2 separate regions of the Homo sapiens genome follow, and region 1 is linked to region 2. The links come from fine-mapping of genetic effects on gene expression. Tissue or cell type: lymphoblastoid cells. Region 2 holds a variant in brackets; the other region holds the start of a gene. All regions are shown on one strand. Distances are between the middles of the regions.

Region 1 (8,181 bases), 55 kb after region 2:
GGCAAAGGTTGCAGTGAGCCGAGATTGCGCCACTGCACTCCAGCCTGGGTGACAGAGCGAGACTCTGTTTCAAAAAATAAAGTTGGTAGTAATAATCCCAATCACATTGCATGCCCTTTTGCAATGTGATTTTTACCCTCTATCCTTTAGAGGTGAAGTCAATGTCCCCTCCTCTTGTATCTGGGCTATAATTGTGACTTACTCTGACAAAAAGAATGGGGCAAAAGTGATGATGTATGACTGCCAGGCCTAGGTCTTATGAGATCCTGCAGCTTCCATTATGGCCCAGCCACCATGTAAAAGAAGCTCGAGCTAGAATTTTTTTTTTTTTTTTTTTTTGAGACGGTCTCGCTCTGTCACCCAGGTTGGAGTGCAATGGCACAATCTTGGCTCACTGCAACCTCCGCCTCCCATGTTCAAGCAATTCTCCTGCCTCGGCCTCCCAAGTAGGTGGGATTACAGGTGCCCACCACCATACCCAGCTAATTTTTGTATTTTTAGTAGAGACGGGGTTTCACCATGTTGGTCAGGCTGGTCTGGAACTCCCGACCTCAGGTGATCCACTCACCTCGGCCTCCCAAAGTGCTGAGATTACAGGCATGAGCCACTGCGCTCGGCCACTCGATATAGGTTTATAAGTGATGAGAGACCAAGAAAGAGAACTCACAGAGAACCAAGATATCCCAGCCAACAGCTAGCTCCAAAGGTACAGACATGTGCAGCCTTCTTGGATCCTCCAGCTCAATCAGCATCATATGGGACAAAAAAAAATATGTCCTCCTTTCCTGAATTACTAACCCACAAAATCATAGGCAATAAAATGGTTGTCATGTTATGCCACCAAAAGTCTTCGGGTAATTTGTCACACAATAGACAACTGAAACAGTCAGAAATTCAACACTCTCTTGGGCAGTCATTCAAACATTTCCCCACTTTGATGATCAAAAAATTCTTTCTCGTATTCATCAAAATTGCTCCTCCTTCAATTTAAGACCATTTCCTCTTAAATCTTTGAAGTTCATGAAGAATAATTAATAAAAATCCCCCTGGCAAAACTATTCTTGTATTTGAAGATGATAATGAAGTTATCTCTTAGCTTTTCTTTCTCTAGGCTAAAATCTTTCCCCCCTTTTTAAAACTTATAATGATAAGACCTGTTTTTCAACCTTTTAATCATTTTAATTATCCTCTCAAGTATGAGAGACCCAAAATTGAACACCATATGCCAATATCTAACAGAGATTATTTCCTAGCTCTAATGGTTCAGCTTTTTATAATGGAATTTCTCATAGTCCCAAATATGGCATTTTAGCACTCCAAAAGTTGTGAAGTGATCTAAAAAGTTAATTACTTACTATAACTGTAAAAGGTTTTCTGCCCTTAACACTCAGCTTACTCCATTTTGGGATGACCGCTTTCACTCACCAGCCTGGTTTGATACTCCACCAGGGCAGCAGGTTTTCACAACTTCCAGATATTTGAAGTATAAAAGAAAAACCTGAGAGGTTGGAGTACGCACACCATTAATTTCAATCAAGGTCTCTAACCACAACCAGGGCCTTCCCATAGGTCAGGCAGGTTCAGAGTACCTCCTCCTCCTACCTTGATGATAAAGTGGCCTTGTAAAAGGCAAGACCGTTAGCACTTGCCTATCGAGCAAAGGCACCATTTCTGTGGAACCTGATAGAGTATATTTAACTACTATATTAAGAGACAAACCAGCTGCTTAATGCAGTGTAAGAACCATGTTTTCTCTCTGAGTCTTACCTAAATGTATATATGCTTTGGTATCAGACTAGCTTTATAATCACTGGTAAAATAGGGATAATAAATAAAGCCTACCCAACGCAAATAAAACCATATGAGGGAAATAATTTTGTAAAACACCATAAAAATGTCGTGATATTGCGGGACTAGATCTCAGCAAACCCTTTAAATCTTCAAATTAACTTTGAATGATTACTTGATGGTGGCAGGTAACACATACAAAATAAGCAGCCATGGGCTCATGTTCATCAAATAGGAATGAAAAACCATGCCATCTAACAAAAAAGCTTCTAATATTGCAAAGAATAACGGTTTGAGCCCGGAGATCCACGTCAGCCACTCTCTCTGATGGTGCCAAGCTCTAGTCCAGGGACACCAAGTTCAGTCAAAGAACTCAACAGTCTAGTGGAAGAGACAGACAGTGCTGTCTGTCAGAAAAGACAGAGAAGTCAGAGAAGATGCATATATGAACTAAGTGTCCTGAGGGATGAGTATCTTGCCAGTTAGAGAAGGGAGAGTCCATTGGGAAAAGGCAGAGTCCTAAAAGACATGGTATATCCATGGAATGTTAACATGAGAAGTTCAGTGAAGCTGGAGAGGAGAGAAATGGCCAGGGGAGAGGGAGATGAGATGGTTAACAGCAACATGTAGGAAAGAATCCAACTGTGAAAGCTTTTAGAAGTCAAGCTAAGTGGAAAACAGGGAACAAATGGCACCTTAAATGAAAAGATTAGATGTGGACTTTAAAAAGATAACTTGGGCAACAATATGGAGAAGATAGGAGCAAGGAAAGACTTATGGAGGAGTGGCCATTTGATAAGGGTCTGAACTAGGAGTTACAAACTCAAATTCCTAGAGGCAATGCAGGTAAAATGCTAAGTCTTCAGTGTGTAAGATGTCAGAAAATGGTGGTATCCGTAATCTTTGAAGAGTACAGGCCTTCTCTCTGATGGTGCCTAAAAGTATTCACACACAAAATTTTAAGCCCTTAGGCTGACTGATTGATTTTTGGGATGGAGTCTTCTTCTGTGCCTAGGCTGGAGTTCAGTGGCACAATCTCAGCTCATTGAAACCTCCACCTCCTGGGTGCAAGCAATTCTCTTTTCTCAGCCTGCTGGGTAGCTGGTACCACAGGCACTGGCCACCATGCGTGGCGTGCCTTTTTTTTTTTTTTTAAATACAGACAGGGTTTCACCATGTTGGCCAGGATGGTCTCAAACTCTTTTTTTTTTTTGATATGGAGTCTCACTGTTGCTCAGGCTGGAGTGCAGTGGTGTGATCCTCGCTCACTGCAACCTCCACCTCCTGGGTTCAAGTGATTCTCCTGCTTCAGCATCCTGAGTAACTGGGATTATAGGCACGTGCCACCACGCCCAGCTAATTTTTTGTTTTTAGTAGAGATGGGGTTTCACCATGTTAGCCAGGCTGGTCTCAAACTCCTGACCTCAGGTGATCTGCCCACCTCGGCCTCCCAAAGTGCTGGGATTACAGGCGTGAGCCACCGTGCCCAGCCTGACTTTAAACGTCCAGTTTTGACCTCTGGTAAATTAAGGCAATGACAGTGGGAATGAAGAAAAGCCACACATCAAACAGTACTCCAACAAAATCAACAGGGTTTAGCACATTTAAAGATGTGAGCATAAAAAGAATGAACAAGGCCGGGCGCGGTGGCTCACACCTGTAAACCCAGCACTTTGGGAGGCCAAGGCAGGTGGACCATGAGGTCAAGAGATCGAGACCATCCTCGCCAACATGGTGAAACACTGTCTCTACTAAAAATACAAAAATTAGCTGGGCGTGGTGGCACGTACCTGTAGTCCCAGCAACTCAGGAGGCTAAGGCAGGAGAATCGCTTGAACCAGGAAGGCAGAGGTTGCAGTGAGCTAAGATCACACCACTGCACTGCAGCCTGGGTGACAGAGCAAGATTCCTCTCAGAAGAAAAAAAAAAGAGTTGATGAGAGGATCAGAGTTGAGAAAGTACAGTACAGGCTCTTGCTCATTCTACCCTTACTGAGAACCTACTATGTGCAACGTACCATGGATACAATTCTAGCAAAGCAGACCCTGATTCTCAATACATACTATGATTGGAGTAAATACCAGGTTCTCCTGAGTACTCAACCCTGGTAAGTAAGAAGAGGCTTCATGGAAGAGGTGACTTCTAGGCTGAAACCAGTTGGCCAGATTAAGCTTGGGGAAGGTGTGTAAAAGAACGCTTACATATGCTAAGGTCTGAGGTGAAAGAGAACGTGGGCAATTTGTTGGAATTATAAGGAGCAGAAACGTAATTTGGAGGGTGACGACTACCTAGAGATATCATAGTCTGATTAGGTGAAGGACTCAAAAGTTTGGCGATGAAAAGCAGGAGGGAGATAGAGTAGTAGCCTAGTAGAATTAGAGATGAGGGAGGTTCTTCCTATTAATTCAGAAAGGAATATGGGAACAAACTCACTGATAAGACAGTGTTCTCCACAACTCAATATTTAGTTATTAGGAAGGCAACCAAATGCCTTCACTTCTTTTCCTTTAACAATGGCTTAGTTTGACTAAAGTGTTTCTCACAAGATACACACAAAAAAACAAAATACAAGAGCAAATGACGGATAAAGCTGTAAACCTAACGTTTTACTTTTCTAAGATTTATATAATCAGTGATTTAATTGGACCTAACTCCACATCCAGAACTCAAATGAAAGAAAACTTCTGGCCGGGGGCCGTGGCTCATGCCTATAATTCCAGCACTTTGGGAGGCTGAGGAGGGTGGATCACCTGAGCTTGGGAGTTCGAAACCAGACTGACCAACACAGCAAAACCCTGTCTCTACTAAAAATACAAAATTAGCCGGGCATGGTGGCGCACATCTATAATCCCAGCTACTTGGGAGGCTGAGGCAGGAGAATCACTTGAACCCGGGAGGTGAAGGTTGCAGTGAGCCGAGATCACACCATTGCACTCCAGCTTGGGCAACAAGAGTGAAACTCCGTCTCAAAAAAAAAAAAAAAAAAAAAAAAAAAAAAAACCTGACTCACTTCTGAAGACAGGATTTTCCCAGTTTCTAATGCAGCTTCATCTAGCTAATGAAACTTAAGAAAACAGTTTGAGGTTACCTGATTTTGCCAGTTTCAAAACATTGCCACGACAGAAAGCAAGCTGTCTCTAGTTCCTGTGGCTGAGGTCGCTGGAGCCATGTTCAGATGAGATCATCTCAGGAACCAAGAGCAGCGGCTTTCATGTGAAGTGAATGGTGCCGCCTGGGGATGTATCTTTGGTAAGCAAGATTGCAACACAGCAGGGAGTTTACCCAGGGCAGTGCTGACTCACGCTGGGCAAAATTTGTACTTCCCAAACAACTCAGCCTGAACCAACCGCAGTCAACTGCAACCTAGGAAAGAAGAGGCAGCTCACTGATTGTTTTAAATCAAGTGCTGATTACTGGGGGCAGGTAAACCTCATTCCCCCACTACTGGTAACTTGGCCACCTCCAGAGCCCTTACCCAAAAAGTTCCAGTGGCCAGTTTCTAAAATTTCATCTGAGAACAGGCTGGGGCTGGGGCCAGCAAGATTACTGAACATAGCAGGTTCACAGCTCTGAAGATTTCCCCAGGAGGCTGATAAATAAGTCACTTTGCATTTACAAATTAGAACATCTGGGTCAGTGGACTCAGGGAACTTGCCCAGTCATCATTAGCCAGTCAAATCATTAGGGTGAATTTTTGTCAGTTCTAACCAGGCTCATTGTTCTTTTTTCCCACTAGGCCTCCTCTGACCTCTCTATTTCTTCAGACAACTCAAGTTCTCTCATTAAGATAGATGCACTGGAATTTTTTTTTTTTAATCAGCTGCCACATTCTCTATGCTAAAGCCAAATCATTTACCATCACACCTACTGGATGCATAGGGAATACAGAAGACTATGAAAATCACCTTAACACTTGCTCTGAAAAGAGACATCCCTAAATTTATGTCAATTCTCATTTATTAGCCTGCTTATTTAAAAAATCAATCTAGAATGACTGGCTCATCAACAGCTATTAATTACTGAATTTGCCCTGACAGGCTAGAATTGACATTGGTGTTATACAAAAAAAAAAAAAAAAGATCAAGTCCTTGCTTTTTGTGTGCTTTAATTTGACAAGAGAGAAACTAAAGTTCCTATTAGATCCTTCTGTTTCCTGCTTAAAATGTATGACAGTTCCCCAAGGCCATCAGCTATTTCTTAGCAGGGCATTTGAGGCCTCTGCACCCAGCTTCGTTCATCCTTTAAGGTAGGTCTCACATGGCATGAACTCTGGATGTAGCTGCCAACTCAGCTTGTCATTCAATAATGTTAGGTTAATTAAAATGTACGTGCAGACAGAATTTGAGTTTAAAAACTATACTACTTAATTTTCTATTCAAGGGGCTAGTTTTAAAAAGTTATTTATCCAACTCACTTAATTCTCCTTAATTACATTATTCCAGTAGGATAGCCACGCTGAGCTTTGATAAGGTATTATAAAATGTTCCCTGTTTTATTTCCTCCCCTTCAGTGTTTTCCTTTCAGAAAATGGCTTTGTTTAAAGAAGTTTCCCTATAGTACATGTTAATTAGTCCTTTCTGAATGATAAACACATCTTTATAGCAGCTGACAACCATTATCTCTTCAACCACACTTTAAAAAAAATTTCTGTAGTTGATGATAAGTTACAAATTCTAGTATGAAACAACTCTCAAGGTACAGACAAATATGGAACCTCCTTCAGAAAAAAAAAAAATGATTAGAAAAGCTCCTGACCTGTTCTGTATTTGCGAACTTTAAATAAGAGGGCCGGGCACAGCGGTTCACGCCTATAATTGCAGCACTTTGGAAGGCCGAGGTGGGCGGATCACCTGAGGTCGGGAGTTCAAGACTAGCCTAACCAACATGGAGAAACCCCCATCTCTACTAAAAATACAAAATTAGCCAGGTGTGGTGGCACATGCCTGTAATCCCAGCTACTCGGGAGGCTGAGGCAGGAGAATCGCTTGAACCCGGGAGGCAGAGGTTGCAGTCAGCCAAGATTGTGCCATTGCACTCCAGCCTGGGCAACAACAGAGCAAAACTTCGTCTCAAAAAAAAAAAAAAAAAAAGAAAGAGAAAATCCAGACAGTACTATGCCCAGGAGACAGATACGAACTATATAAAGAGCAGCCTGAAGGCCAAAGGCATGGAACTCCTAAGTTGACTAAGAGAAACACCATTGAGCAAGTGAACAGAGCTGCTGCAGCTTATCATTCCCCTCTTTGGGACTCTGATACAGTTTTAACCAACTGCCCCAAATTATAGCCACACTCCATCCTAGTTCTTCCTTTTAAAGTGGAAAGGTTGAGGATTACATTTTAGAGCTTAAAAAGGTACTCGTTTGAACTAGTGGTTTCAGGCACTTGAGGATTTATGAGGTTACATGAAAATTATGAGAATATGAGGCTATGGGAGAAATAATAACTGTGGCTTTCTGACTAAGTTCTTTCAATACATTATTTTAAAATTAGCCAGGCATGGTGGCATACACCTCTAACCCCAGCTACTCTAGAGGCTGGGGCAGGAGAATCACTTGAACCCAGGAGACAGAGGTTGCAGAGCCGAGATTGCGCCACTGCAATCCAGCCCAGGCGACAGAAGGAGACTCCATCTCAAAACAAAAAACAACAAAAACAGAAAATACGTTATTTTAAAACTCAAGTAACTTAACACCCAAAACTATTTATGCTTTTTTTAATAGGGTGGTCTCAACAGATATTTAATGAGTGTGCATATGTGTATGTGCCCATTGTTTCATTTGAACAGACATATGTGATGTCATTGACATCCCAGATTTACTTTCTTTTCTGCAATAGATCTTGACATTATAAACAATAAGCAGGTTTCAAAAGAGAAATTAAAATATCCATTTCTCAGGATTCTGTAGTCTTCCAAATCCACAGAAAATTACCAAATACATACAGAAGATCTGGGAGGATGCACACAGCAGGGAGAGCACTGTAATGGGAATAAAGATCAAATAGCTATGTTTAGCTTTATCCAAATTACCCCCCAAAAATCATGAATTTTTTTACAACAAGCATATATTCAAATATGACTTGGTAGTTTAAAATTCAGTTAAAATTTTAAAGTTTGTATCACTTACAAACTGCTTTACTCTCTCTTCACACTCTTTCCTCTCAACATCTCCCTTTTATCTACTTCCCTACCCCCAGCATCCTAAATGATACTGCACATTTCTTGTTTTTAACAAAATTAATCTTACTTGTGTCCACATCCTTTTTCTAACTGAGAAGTCGGTGAATGGATAAATGCACATTTCCAGGAATCAGTGCCTGTCTCACCTTGTTGATAATTAATGATTGCCAAATTCTAATCTTGGTGTTCAGTGACCTCACAGCCTTTTTTTTT
Region 2 (8,181 bases):
CTGAACTCGGTCCCCAACAGACCTGTAGAAACCTTTCCCCTCTCTCTTCCCAGCCTGAAGTCCTTGAACCCATTGAGAGTAGTAAGCAGGACTCCTGACCCCTCAGTCTAGCAGGTTGTACAGAGTAGACTGCTTGGTCTCAGGGGACATCACTGAGTCTGGGGGCACTGAGTCAGAGCCAGCTCCGCCTGCCCACCATGACTGGGTGGCTCTTATACACATGTACTCTTCCCATCTCCAGGTCCCAGATGTCGAGGCCTGTCCACTCTCCTTTTCCCCTAGGCAGGGATGGAGGGGCGTGTCAGTCCTGTATAATTTGGAGTGACTGGAGGGGTGGGGGTATTGATGCATGGTATTCCAGTAAACTTCTCTGCTTGTGTCCTAACTCTAGGCTCCCTCATTCTGTCCCGTGCTCATTTGGGTGAAGACCCATCTGTACCCAGTGTAGGTCTGACCCCACCCTGACCCCTCTGCATTTGCAGGTATTGCTGGACATCTTCACTGGGGTGCGGCTTTACTTGCCACCCTCCACACCAGACTTCAGCCGTCTCAGACGCTACTTTGTGGCATTCGACGGGGACCTGGTACAGGAATTTGATATGACTTCAGCCACGCACGTGCTGGGTAGCAGGGACAAGAACCCTGCGGCCCAGCAGGTCTCCCCAGAGTGGATTTGGGCATGTATCCGGAAACGGAGACTGGTAGCTCCCTGCTAGGTTTGCTGTCTTCCCTCTCCCTCAGGCCATACTCTCCTTTACCATACTACTGGACTGGACTCAGGCTGGAGGCAGATAGACACAGTATAGGGGGAATGGGCTTGCTTCTCCCAAACCCACCAGTTCTCCACTGTCTCTTCTGGACCAGGAATTAGTTGCTGTGGGTGCCACAGCTGAAGTCAGTTTGTCTTGCTGGTTTAAATAGATCTTTCAGAGCTGGGTGCTGGGTTTGCCATCTTTTTGTTTTCTTTGAAAAGCAGCTTAGTTACCCTTTTTATAAATAAAATATCTTGCAGTTATCTTTGTCCTTTCCCCACCTACACCCCCAATAATTTCCCTAGAGATTAAGGAGTAAAGGCTGGGCTATGGCAGCTCTGTCCACAAAGCCTTCTCTCCCATCCTTGCCTGTTCCTTTGTACTTCCAGGCTCATTTTAAAGTTGTATTTAAAGGACTGCCCTCGGAAATGCTTCTGTTTAGCGGAACTTGTATTCAGCCTGACACGCTTTGCCAGGAACAAACCTCATGTGAAAGAAAACAAAATGAATTTTTTTACTTTCTTCTCTGTGTTCTCCTATTACATGGTGAGGATCCCCAGTTTGAAGGGAGGGGACTAGGGTCAGGTAGGAAAATGGGGCCTTTATGAAGAAAGGGGAGGTTATTTGGGCCACTCCTCTGGAGGGATAGAGGGCTCCAGGAAGATCTGCATCCCCAAAACCTGGAAACAAGACTGTTCTTTAAGAATAAAAATCCACATGGGGCTTGAGGCCAAGAACAGCCCTTGTTGCCACCAACATGGAGACTTTGTACCATATCCCATTCTTAGTGCTCGAGTGTTCCAACCTGAAGTTGAAGAAGCCACCCTGGCTGCACATGCCATCAGCCATGACTGTGTATGCTCTGGTGGTGGTGTCTTACTTCCTCATGACTGGAGGAATAATTATATGATATTGTTGAACCCCCAAGTATTGGCTGATGAACGTGGGCATCAGAGGCCAGTAGCTTTCTTGGCCTACAAAGTAAATGGACAGTATATTATGGAAGGATTTGCATCCAGCTTCCTGTTTACAATGGGAGGTTTAGGTTTCATAATGCTGGACCAGTCGAATGCACCAAATATCCCAAAACTCAATCGATTTTTTTTCTTCTATTCATTGGATTCGTCTGTGTCCTACTGAGTTTTTTCATGGCTGGAGTATTCATGTGAATGAAACTGCCGGGCTATCTGATGGGTTAGAGCGCCTTTAAGAAGAAATCAGTGGATACTGGATTTGCTCCTGTCAATGAAGTTCTAAAGGCTGTACCAATCCTCCAATATGAAATGTGGGAAAGAATGAAGAGCAGCAGTAAAAGAAATACCTAGCGAAAAAAACAGGAAGCATATTGAAGCTCGGACTAGAATTTCTTCTTGGTATCAGAGAGACAAGTTTATCACAGTATTTTTTTTTTTCCTGCTGACCTATTGATAATACCAACAATGTTGAGTGGCATTTTCTTCTTAGTTTTTAATTTCTTAAAGAAAATATACTCCATATCTGCAGGGAAAAAAATAAAAATCCACACCTGAGAACAGATCCATACAACCTGCTTACAAAGAACAGCTCCTGTGCTACCTGAGGCTGATTTATTTGAAGAACAAAAGGAAGAGAGACAATTTAGTGTAGACAAGTGCTATTCAATAGAACTTTTTGCAGCAGTGGAAATATCCATAAATCTGCAGTATCCAACCAAACTAGCCACAGACAGCTGCTGAGCAATTGAAATGAAGCTGGCACAACTAAGGAACTGAAGTTCTTATTTTAATTCAACTTCAAATGGTCACATGTCACTAGTGACTACCACACTGGACAGTGCAGGTGTAGACGGAGTTCAGATCAGACTCCTGAAACTTAATGGCTCTAACCTTAGGCAAGTTACGTTAACATCTAAGCCTCAATCCCTCCAAGTAGAATGGGTGCACCTAAATCATAGGGTTGTCCTGTTGTCCTGAGCAACATTATGTAAAGCACTTAGCCCAGAGCCTAGCACATAGTTATCTAGAGTTGGGAACGTCACTCCTGGTGTGCATGTCCAGACCCTACCCGGGAGAAGGGCCTAACCTATGACTTTAGAACCCTCAGTTGCAGGTGTGCATGTTCCAGCCAACACTCCACTCTGAGTGCAGGCTCATCAGGACACCATATGGTTGTAAACTGGCTGCCATGTCCCAATCCTTCCAGCTCTTGAGGGTCAGTTCTCACCTTATGAACAAATTAACAGGCTCTGGACCTATAAGATCAAGGACCACTGCGCCCCCTGGCCACCCCACCGCCCCCCCCCAACTTTGATCTGATTGACTTTGGCTTCCACCTACTGTTTAAAATGTGTATGTTGGGGGAGTAGGGACAGCACGGGGGAGGGGTTTACTTTCCTGACTCTAGCCCAGGACATTTGGTGTTTTTGAATAGGCACCATTCAGCCTTGCTTCAGTATTAGGAATAAGATACTTTTTATTCCATCCTCTATGGAGACAAAAAGCTGCTCCTCCTTTGAGTACTGACCTACATAGATTTCCATTTCTCTCTTCAGCCTCAGGCCAAACAAACAAC[C/T]GGACAGGGCAGCAGAACAAGGCTGTCTCCTCAGGATCCTGCCAAAGGCACTGTCCTCTCCAACCTGGACCCAGCCCCACTTGCCCTTATTGGTTGCTTACACCCAGAGTGCACACTCACAGGAAAGGGCCTCTGCTGGCTGCAGGTGATCATCTTGTCCCTTCTCTGCCTTAGTGTGTGTTATTGCCATTTCAATGTCAGTGGTTTTTTATGTATTTTCTTCCAGTCTTTGCTGCTGAGATCTGACTGTATATACTATTTTGTATCCTTTCATGTATTTCTTTCATGTATTTCAATGCAGCCCTCAACATCATCATCATAAATCTCTCCAGCAGAATGCTGGAGGCCTCCCTCTTCTGAACCTCTACATGCTGCTGGCTGGCATCAAGCAGAGGTCATCACTGGGTGCTGAACAGGTCAGCTCCCTAGGGCAATGTGAGCAAAGTGTTGTGGCTCATCCTCGATCCTTTATGCCCTTTTGGCAAGATTCCTTTCTCTTCTCAGTCACAGCAGATGGACACATAATCTTGTTCTCCCAGGGGCTGCATTCTCAGTAGTCTTTTCCCTGCTCCTTGGGCGCCTGGTCAGGGAGGTTTGTACAAGCCTGCGCACACACAGCAGTCTGTCACGAGGCTGGGCCAACCTTTTTTTTTTTTTTAAACAGACTCTTGCTCTGTCATTCAGGCTGGAGTGCAGTGGTGCAATCTCAGCTCACTGCAACCTCTGCTTCCCGGGTTCACAAGCAATTCTCATGCCTCAGCCTCCCAAGTGGCTAAGACTTAACAAACAGGCACACACCATCACTCGCAGCTAAGTTTTTGTATTTTTAGTAGAGACCACGTTTCGCCATGTTGTCCAGACTGGTCTCAAACTCCTGGCCTCGAGTCATCCACGCACCTCAGCCTCCCAAAGTGCTGGGATTACAGGCGTGAGCCATGGCGCCCAGCCTGGGCCAACCTTTTCTGAGCCATAGTCCAGCTGTACTACAGCTGTATCCAAAAGGTACCATGTATCTCCCAGGGTAACCTGAAGACCTAACTGGGCATACTAACTGTCCTCAGATTTCAGTTCTTTAAGGCCCATCTCTTCTAGATCAGTGTAAATATCTGAACTCACTTGGTGCTTCAACCCAATTGGTCTTGGGATTCATCCTTTACCTACCCAGCTCTCATTCTCTTCTAGGTTGTTCCATGGCCTCTTCCATATATTACATTTGTGGTCTTGAGCAAGTTAGTTAGTTACAACAACACTGAGCATCTTGACCAAGGTCACTTGGCCCAACCACAGGCTAATCCCAGGCCATGTGCACATCCCAGGATTAGCTTGTGGTTTATCAGTTGTCAATTTTTTTTTTTTTTTAATACAGGGTCTCACTCTGTCACCCTGGCTGGAGTGCGGTGGCGATCAGAGCTCACTGCAGCTTCAATCTCCTGGCTCAAGTGATCCTCCCACCTCAGCCTTCCAAGTAGTTGGGACTACCCACATGCACCACCATGCACGGCTAATTTTTTGGTTTTTTTGGGTTTTTTGTTTGTGTTTTTTTTTGTTTTGTTTTTTGAGACAGAGTCTCGCTCTTTCGCCCAGGCCGGACTGCAGTGGCGCAATCTTGGCTCACTGCAAGCTCCGCCTCCCGGGTTCACACCATTCTCCTGCCTCAGCCTCCCGAGTAGCTGGGACTACAGGCACCCGCCACCACGCCTGGCTAATTTTTTGTATTTTTAGTAGAGACGGGGTTTCACCGTGTTAGCCAGGGTGGTCTCGATCTCCTGACCTCGTGATCTGCCCGCCTCAGCCTCCCAAAGTGCTGGGATTACAGGCGTGAGCCACCGCACCCGGCCCTTGTTTGTTTTTTTAAGTAGAGACAAGGTCTCACTACATTGCCCAGGTTGGTCTCAAACTCCTGAGCTCAAGCAGTCTTCCCACCTTGGCCTCCTAAAGTGTGGAAATTATAGCATGAACCACTGTCAGGCTCTTTTGTCAGTCCTATCAACCTCTAACATCCTCGCACCAGACAGGACAGGTGTCTGTATTGAAACTTTATTACAAAATTATAAAGCAGAGCTCTGTAACAAAATAATACACATTTGGGTTTGCTTTAACCTCCAAGTAAGTCTGAGAAAATCTTAATAAAAGCCACTTGAAGTAACAATTCACATCCAAGAGATTTCCACAAATTTATACAATGTATATTGAGCACTAGTTCCTGTACAGCTTATTCTTATTAGTTTGGATCCAACTATTCCAATGTATTATGAACCAGTCAGCTATCTGTCTTTTGAAACAAGTCTTAACTGAAATCTCAGAGTAATCAGCAAAAGCTACGGAATAATTCTAAGAATTAGATGTTTCCATATCATTAAAACCAAGGATCCATGAGGGGCAGAAGGGAGGATTCAAAGATTTAAAAAAAATCAAATTTTAGACCTTGGTTAAATATTAACTGGAATGGGATCTTGGAACTCCCAACTTTAATTTGGTGTAATAAAAATGATGCAAAAAAAAAAAAAATCAGGGTTGTTTGACACCTTTTTTCCTAAAGGGAAACCTTCACCAAAAGGGGATAAAAGATTTAAAGGCAAAATGAGTAAACAACCTCAGTTTTAATTCTTACTGAGGTTACTAACCAGCTATCAGTATATTATTTTCGATTTGTGTCTAGGAGGGAAACTGAAGAGGAGGTAAGGCTTCAGCAGAGAAAGCAGGTTGTAAGTAGAGAGCCAGCTTCTGCCCTTAAGTTACTGCTAGATCTTAGCTGAATTGCACATACATAGACCTGTTTTACAGAGGAACTGAGTAGCTGAATGAATGATCCTTTGCTAATTGGTAGGCATTGTAAACTATAGTATTTACTGCCCATGACAAAAGTGGAAAGGGATGTCTTCATGAGCAAATCTGATTCCCCCAACTCCTGCAAAGGCTGTGGTTCAGAATCAAATCATCCAGGACTTTGTATAACATTGAGGTAAGTGGCCCAGTGTTCAGTTGACTAGTTTATGCAGTTATTTCATTCCTCCAAAGGGGTTTAGTGGTTGGTGATGGAAGAAAGCATAAATATGTCTGTACCAATGTAATAAGTCCCTTTAGAGGTTTCCCTCTGCCATCCAGAGTCATGATTGGTTCTAGTCTCAGATTTTTCAGCTGCATGGGAGGGGTAAGGGGTGGGAGGTGTCTGCCAAGGCGTTTAGGGTTTGCATAGTTCATCCATTGGTAATGGGAAAACACTCTGCTTTCCTGATCATGTGTTTTGTGCTTGGCCACGCTTCTGCAGCAAACTCTTAAGTCCTCCAGCTCCTCTAGGGGTGTAAAGACTGTGAGGGCTCAAATACATCACCTACTCATTGCATGGTCCTTCCTAAAGAGCCTAGAAAATGGTTTCTCCTGCTGGGTGTGGTGGCTCACGCCTGTAATCCCAGCACTTTGGGAAGCTGAGGCGGGCGGATCATAAGGTCAAGAGTTCAAGACCAGCCTGGTGAACATGGTAAAACCCCGTCTCTACTAAAAATACAAAAATTAGCCTGGTGTGGTGGTGGGCGCCTATAATCCCAGCTACTCTGGAGGCTAAGGCAGGAGAATAGCTTGAACCTGGGAGGTGGAGGTTGCAGTAAGCCAAGACTGTACCACTGCACTCCAGCCTGGGCAACAGAGTGAGACTCAAAAAAAAAAAAAAAATGCTTTCTCCCTGACCTGCCCCCAAAAATCAGTGGGCTAGGAAAGGGAATGAAAGTAGGGTCTCCTCACTCCCCACCAACCTGGGAAATAAAGACTTGAACTGTCGGCTTACAACAGAATCCAGTCTCATTCAGTACCTCCTGAAAGCTCTTAAGTGCTCTGTCTTAACATTTGCTCTCCAGGAACTTCAACAGCAGTCTGGCCAGAGAAGAGCACAGGCTCTTTGCCTAAATCTATTTCTTCAATGAAACCAAATTTAAAACTACCATGGATAAGGGAGGGATTTCATTTTCAGCGAAAAGTGGCTTAAGACTTCTAGTTGGGAAAAGGATCAGAAGCCAAGCCAAAATTAAGGAGAAGGCCACTGCCTCCACCCATTGCTTCCCCTTTCCGCATAAACTAAGGATGGTGCAAATCAGGTCCCAAGAGAAGCAGCAGCAGGGATTATGCACGCACTATCCCTTGCAGACAGAAACAAATTTCCCAGCAGTTTGGGAGCCTGATGTTTTGTTGGCTCCCAGAGTCAGGTCAGGAGACCAACAGCTTCCAATCCCAGCATTTAATGAAGTGGCTTTTAACAACTTTGAAATTTTTCTATAGCATTTGTATTTCATTTCTCACCAAAGATAAGTTTACTGGTCTAAAATCTGTCCTAAGGACCACTATCGGTCTGGTAAACTAACATTTTTGGTCCAAAGAAACAAATGGATTTAGGCAATGTAGCAAGAGACTTTAGCAAAGATAGTTAAAGCACAGAAAGCCGGAGAGACCAGAAATTTAAATCCGAATGTGCTGGGGAGGAGGACTTCTGATTGATGAAACACATGGGCAAGCATCTCCCATATGGGGTGGGGATGGGTTGGGTACAGGAGGAGGGGTGAAACTGTCTAGGTTCAGGGAGGAAGACAGGACCCAAGTTCTGGAAAGTTCTCTGTTCATCAGTTACCATCATCACTCCAAGATCACTGAACCAAGAACATACCCATGTGATTTATACAAGTTCCCACTGGCCTTGGGCTTTGCCAGCCAAGAGGTACACCCCTGGGAAGACAGGCATGCTCAGGGGTGACATGGCATCTTGCTTGACCTGGTTTTGGGAACCCTGCAATATTTCTACTAGCTTGCTCCTCTGCAAGCTGGCCAACCCTGAGCCCAGACACCCCAGGCTATTTCCCTGTAAGGCACTGAAGAAACCGATGCAAGCTCTCAG

Direction of the effects. Positions count from the first base shown, and alleles are read on the strand shown. Sizes are in standard deviations (SD) of each study's normalised expression.
With allele C in place of T in region 2, the expression in lymphoblastoid cells of the gene that starts at base 5,008 in region 1 is higher (small effect, 0.34 SD a copy in GTEx).

Evidence for each region. PIP is the estimated chance that this variant, and not a neighbour inherited with it, causes the effect.
Region 1: RFFL starts here. The variant in region 2 is fine-mapped to the expression of RFFL in lymphoblastoid cells (GTEx, PIP above 0.99).

Annotation. Positions count from the first base shown.
Region 1 is chr17:35,058,700-35,066,880 of GRCh38, forward strand. It overlaps RFFL (ring finger and FYVE like domain containing E3 ubiquitin protein ligase), which reads right to left and starts at 5,008. Exons shown (of 7, transcript NM_001017368.2): 1 at 4,877-5,008. The region is part of intron 5 of RAD51L3-RFFL (RAD51L3-RFFL readthrough); the gene reads right to left. RefSeq lists enhancers at 4,559-5,758, 4,845-5,640, 5,090-5,189 and a silencer at 4,780-4,849.
Region 2 is chr17:35,003,791-35,011,971 of GRCh38, forward strand. It overlaps LIG3 (DNA ligase 3), which reads left to right. Exons shown (of 20, transcript NM_013975.4): 20 at 483-5,953. The coding sequence ends at 716. It overlaps RFFL (ring finger and FYVE like domain containing E3 ubiquitin protein ligase), which reads right to left. Exons shown (of 7, transcript NM_001017368.2): 7 at 2,200-8,181. The coding sequence ends at 8,178. RAD51L3-RFFL (RAD51L3-RFFL readthrough) reads right to left here. Exons shown (of 7, transcript NR_037714.1): 7 at 5,322-8,181. It also overlaps the pseudogene OSTCP7. Among named protein-coding and RNA genes, the nearest start is that of LIG3, 27 kb to the left of the region's middle. The variant C/T (reference allele first, on the strand shown) is at 3,303.